Linked DNA regions of Homo sapiens: region 1 is linked to region 2. The links come from fine-mapping of genetic effects on gene expression. Tissue or cell type: whole blood. Region 2 holds a variant in brackets; the other region holds the start of a gene. All regions are shown on one strand. Distances are from middle to middle.

Region 1 (2,680 bases), 23 kb after region 2:
AAACCTAGTCATATTAAAAGTTCCTTTTTCTCCATTAATCAGTCTGCCCCAAAGAAGCTTTTCCGTATTTCACAGGATCCTTAGAAGAGGCCAGCTAACTGTGATACCTAGCACCCTTATCTTTTCTCGATACACAGCGTCCTTCCTCCAGCAGAATCCTAAAATAGCAGCAGTCCGGATTAACATGGCTGTGAGGAGTAGGTGCTTAGCTGAATAACATCAGAATTAATGAGGGGCCGGACCCCAAACAGAGCCACCTGGTGGGCATGAACACCAGGCAGTTATGGGGCCGTTTCCTTCAACCAAGTGTCTGGTCCCTGGCTATCTCTGCTTCAGCCAGAACACATTCTGTCCCCCACCGAGGCTTTAAGGGCCAGCGCGCAGCACCCTCACCTTTCAGCAGGTCCGGGTGCACATAGCCCAACACGTCGGAGACCCCCAGCTCCTGGCGCGAACAGGTGCCTCCGTGGATGTGCAACCAGGCGGGCTCGGCGAGGGCAGTGCACAGCGCCGTGATAGACAGGGCGCCAGGCAGGGCCGAGGCCAGGCTACGCTCCGGCTGCTTGGGCAGAGCGCTGCCTCCCGGGCTCCTCCGCCGGCGCCCGCCGGGCAGCCCTGCGCCTCCGGGGGCGTACATGCCCGGGGCCGCCCGCCGTCGCTCCGCAGTCGCTGCTGGTCGCCGCCGACCTCCGCGGGGCGCGCAGAGCCTGACAGTCCGGTGGAGGATAGCAACGCTCCGGGTTCGCTGCAGGTGAAGCCGGGACTGGGCTGTCAGGGTTGACACCAGAGGATAGGGGGGTGGGACCCGGGGCTGACGGAGACGGGGAGGGCTGCGGGAATTCGGGGGGCGGAGACAGGAGACTCCGGAATGGGACTGCGGGACGACAACCGAAGAGGGCCAGGGGCCAGATGGGGTCTGGGCAGACTCGAGTGGGGGGCGGAGGGATCGGGGATCGGCTACTGCTAGAGCAAAGACCCGGAGTCAGGGTCTCAGCCAGAGGATGCCGAGGGGCGGAGGACCGGGCTGGGCCGCGGGGATCGGGGACCCGTGATCTGGGACCGGCGGTTTGGGGTGCGACCTGTGCGCAGAAAAGACCCTCCCCACGCCGCCCACTGTTCCTCACCAGTCAGCAGGCCCCAGGGCTGGGATGGTGCTGCTCAGCCCAGTCACGGGCTTCTCGGCTGCCGGGGGCCGAGCGTTCCCAGGCCCCAATCCCGCAACGCCCGGACAGACCCGGGGCCGATGCACTTCCGGCTTCCTCCTCCTCTGCCTCCGCCTCCTCCGGCTCCCCGCCCCGTCCCCCGCGCGCGTCACAGCCTGGGCGCGCCGCCGGCTCTGCGCAGGGCCTCACGGGACTGGTAGTTCGAGGCGGTCCCGCGATGCTTTCCCTGCCGAGGTGAGGGGAGCGACTACAACTCCCAGAGGGTATGGCGGCCGCAGCAGTGGGCAGTTGAGTTTCCGGGGCGACCCAGGTCCTCCGGCGGAAGCGGGAGCCTCTGTCGGCCGCGGAAGCCTGGAGTGGGCGGTACGCAGACGCGCGCGGTGAGACCCGCTGTCTGCTCAGCGGACTCTGCCCGCCCCCACCTCCCCCTGCGTCGGGCCGACATGAAGGACTCGCTGGTGCTGCTGGGCCGTGTCCCGGCGCACCCGGACTCCCGCTGCTGGTTCCTGGCCTGGAACCCCGCGGGGACCCTGCTGGCCTCGTGCGGCGGCGACCGGAGAATCCGCATCTGGGGCACGGAGGGTAAGGCCCAGCCTGGTTGCGCGGCCCTCAGCGCTGAGGGCTCAGCCTGCGCGTAGTGCAGGCGCTCAGCCTGCAGGGGAGGCTGAACCTGTTCCTGGCGGAGGGAGAGTGGGATGTTAGCCACGCCGAGAAGGGCTTTACAGGCAAAGAAGTCTGCGACTGTTGGGAGGAAAAACGTCAGCAGACAAGCTGAAATGTCAAGGGAATTGTGTTAGCTGCAGAGGCAGGAAAATGGGAAAAGAGAGGTGTTAGGAAAGTGGCCTTCAGAGTAACTTGCGACTGGATGGTCACATTTTATCCCGAGGGCATTGGGGAACCAATAGCAATTTTAGATCAGATTTGTTTTAGAAAGATGCCTCCAGAGGTTGGGCGCGGTGGCTCACGCCTGTAATCCTAGCAGTTTGGGAAGCAGAGGCGGGTAGATCACCTGAGGTCAAGAGGTCAAGACCAGCCTGGCCAACATGGTGAAACCCCGTCTCTACTAAAACTACAAAATTAGCTGGGCGTTGTGGCGGGCACCTGTAATCCCAGCTACTCGGGAGGCTGAGGCAGGAGAATCCCTTGAACCCAGGAGGCGAAGATTGCAGTGAGCCGAGATTGTGCCATTGCACCCCAGCCTGGGCATCAGAGCAAAAACTCCGTCTCAAAAAAAAAAAAAAAAAAAAAAAAAAGCTTCCAGACGAAGTAGATTCATTTGCATCTTTGTAAAAGCTGTGAAATACACTCCCTGAGCTTTCCCCCACTAGCTTGATTCCAGTGCTAGCCCCTGATATTGAATGGCTTCATGGTGCTGCACCCAGCTCCAGAGCCTGGCCTGCGCTCCGCCTTTAGGTGACAGCTGGATCTGCAAGTCTGTCCTTTCTGAAGGCCACCAGCGCACCGTGCGGAAGGTAGCCTGGTCCCCCTGCGGTAATTACCTGGCCTCTGCCAGCTTT
Region 2 (2,680 bases):
TGGTCCTGTGTAGGCCAGTGGGCCCCTCCATCACCTTGGGGGTGAGCTGCATGCAGGGTATAAAATCCCACTGCTCTCGCTGAGGGGGCTGCACTCCTGCAGGACTAAAGGAGGCTTTCTCTGGTTGAGGGCTACCATGGCTGGGCGGGTGAGCCTGCCTCCTAGTGGGATTTGCATTAGCAGCTCACTTAGTTCACAGGTCTAAAGCTGTGTCCTCCAGCCCAGCCCTCTAGCAGTAATTAAGAGGATATTTTGGTTCCTGTTGCCACTCCTTTGTTTTATTTCTCAGGGCCCTCAAAGACACCCCAGAATAGATTTCCTGTCCCCTTTAATCTTGCCCTTCTTTGAGTCCCCATTGCATTTTATGGTATATTTCTAGCATGACCTTTCATTCTTTCAGTAATTACCTCCTTATTTCCTTCACCCCTGCATTTAAAAAAAAATTTTATAGATGAGGTCTCACTCTGTCACCCAGGCTGGAGTGCAGTGGTGCAATCATAGCTCGCTGCAGCCTTAAACTCCTGGGCTCAAGCAGTCTTCCTGCCTCTGCCTCCCAAGTAGCTGGGACCACAGGTGCACATGACCATGCCCAGCTAACTTTTTTTTTCTTTTTTGTAGAGACGGGAGTCTTACTTTGTTGCCCAGGCTGGTCTCAAACTCCTGGCTTCAAGCAATCCTTCCACTTTGGCCTTCCAAAGTGCTGGGATTACAGGCATGAGCCACCATGCCCAGCCTCCTTCTCTTACTAGCTGAGAACTAAGAGAAGACACTCTGGAGACAGAGGAGGAAACAGTGACGATGCCACATGATGAATACATAATGGAGGGTGAAGACAAGGCTCCGTCAGGGGCACCAAGGAGGGAAACCCAGTTCTGTGGGGAAGGTATGGGGCAGCTTCACAAGCCCAGTGTCTGCTCCCTTTGTGGGAGACGTGTTGTTTCAGCATCCATTCCCCCTTCTTTTAGGAAAAGTGCTTGAATTTCCTTTTCATGGAACCACCCACCTCCCTCTCATCCATGCATTCTATTCCCAGTATCAGGGGTAGACAAGTGACTTCAGGCTTGGCCAATTAGGGTTCTGACTCTTGGTCAAATCAGAGTGAATCCTGAGTCATTTGTAAACTCCAAGGAAAGGGCTTGCTTTGTTTTCTGTTGAATGCAGTGCTCTGAGATAGCCGGAAATGAAACTGCTCTCTTGCCACACTGAAGGCTAGAGAAGGGCCTGGCCAGGAAATGATGCCAGTGATCAGGG[G/C]TGGAGCTGGAAGAGGGGGAGTGAGGAGGCCCAGACATCTTGGGAGCCCCAAATTCACCTCAGGATTTAACTTCTCCGCTGCTCAGCCAATAAATTCCTTTCTTCCATGACTAATTTGAGTTGAGTTTTTAGTTTTTGCAACTAAAACAGCACTGACTAATACACCCTTAGGTAAGATTAGAGCAAGAATTTCCAATATCTGTGTTCTTCATCCTGAAATTTGGTGAGGATATCTAAGGTTCTTTTGTCTTTTAAAAGAATTCTGTTGCAATGGAAAGTATCAATCCATATTTTTCCATTTCTCCAAAATGTTTTAGTGTATATCTATGGGGCACAAACTTAATCTCTGTAGGCCCTCTGCCATAGTTGCTCTGTGCCACTTGATAAGGGGCTGGTATCTAGAATATATAAAAACTCTTAAAACTCAGCCGGGCATGGTGGCTCATGCCTATAATCCCAGCTCTTTGGGAGGCCGAGGCAGGCGGATCACCTGAGGTCAGGAGTTTGAGACCAGCCTGGCCAACACGGTGAAACTCTATCTCTCTAAAAATACAAAAATTAGGCGGGCGTAGTGGCTCACTCAAGACTGAGGCAGAAGAACCACTTGAACCCAGGAGTTGGAGGTTTCAGTGAGCCCAGATGGCTCCACGGCACTCCATCCTGTGCAACAGAGTGGCACAGGATGGCAAAAACAAACAAAAGCTCTTAAAACTCAACAATAAAAGACAACCCACTTTAGAAATGAGAAAAGGGCCAAGTGTGGTGGTAATCCCAGCACTTTGGGAAGTTGAGGTGTGTAGATTGCTTGAGCCCAGGAGTTTGAGAGCAGCCTGGGCAACATGGCAAAACCACATCTCTACAAAATACAGAAAAGAAAAAAAAAAAATCAGTCAGGTGTGGTGTTGCACACCTGTAGTCCCAGCAACCTGGAGGCTGAAGTGTGAGGATTGCTTAAACCTAAGGAGATAGAGGCTGCAATGAGCTGCGATTGTGCCACTGCACTCTACCTTGGGCAACAGATGAAGACGCTGTCTCAAAAAATAAGAATAAAGAAAGAAAGATGGGAAAAGAATTTATTTCTTTCCTTTTTTTTTTTTTTAGACAAGGTCTGGCTGGTCCCCCAGGCTGGAGTGCAGTGGTGCAATCTTGGCTCACTGCAACCTCTGCCTCCCAGGTTCAAGTGATTCTCCTGCCTCAACTTCCCGAGTAGCTGGTACTACAGGAGCAAGCCACCACACCCAGCTAATTTTTGTATTTTTAGTAGAGCCGGAGTTTCACCATGTCGGCTAGGCTGGTCTCGAACTCCTGACCTCAAGTGATCTGCCCACCTCGGCCTCCGAAAGTGCTGGGATTACAGGTGTGAGCCACTGAACCTGGCCTTTTTTTGCTGCTGTTGTTGTTCGTTTTGTTTTGTTTTTGTTTTTGTTTT

The links. PIP is the estimated chance that this variant, and not a neighbour inherited with it, causes the effect.
Region 1: TMEM127 starts here. The variant in region 2 is fine-mapped to the expression of TMEM127 in whole blood (TOPMed, PIP above 0.99).

What each region holds. Positions count from the first base shown.
Region 1 is chr2:96,264,745-96,267,424 of GRCh38, forward strand. It overlaps TMEM127 (transmembrane protein 127), which reads right to left and starts at 1,253. Exons shown (of 4, transcript NM_017849.4): 1 at 1,125-1,253; 2 at 394-768. The coding sequence starts at 637. It overlaps CIAO1 (cytosolic iron-sulfur assembly component 1), which reads left to right and starts at 1,481. Exons shown (of 7, transcript NM_004804.3): 1 at 1,481-1,745; 2 at 2,577-2,680. The coding sequence starts at 1,607. RefSeq lists silencers at 513-822, 873-1,082, 1,093-1,142 and enhancers at 1,373-1,562, 1,793-2,072, 2,670-2,680.
Region 2 is chr2:96,241,259-96,243,938 of GRCh38, forward strand. It overlaps STARD7-AS1 (STARD7 antisense RNA 1), which reads left to right. Exons shown (of 4, transcript NR_046322.1): 4 at 619-1,365. Among named protein-coding and RNA genes, the nearest start is that of TMEM127, 23 kb to the right of the region's middle. RefSeq lists enhancers at 576-835, 856-905. The variant G/C (reference allele first, on the strand shown) is at 1,252.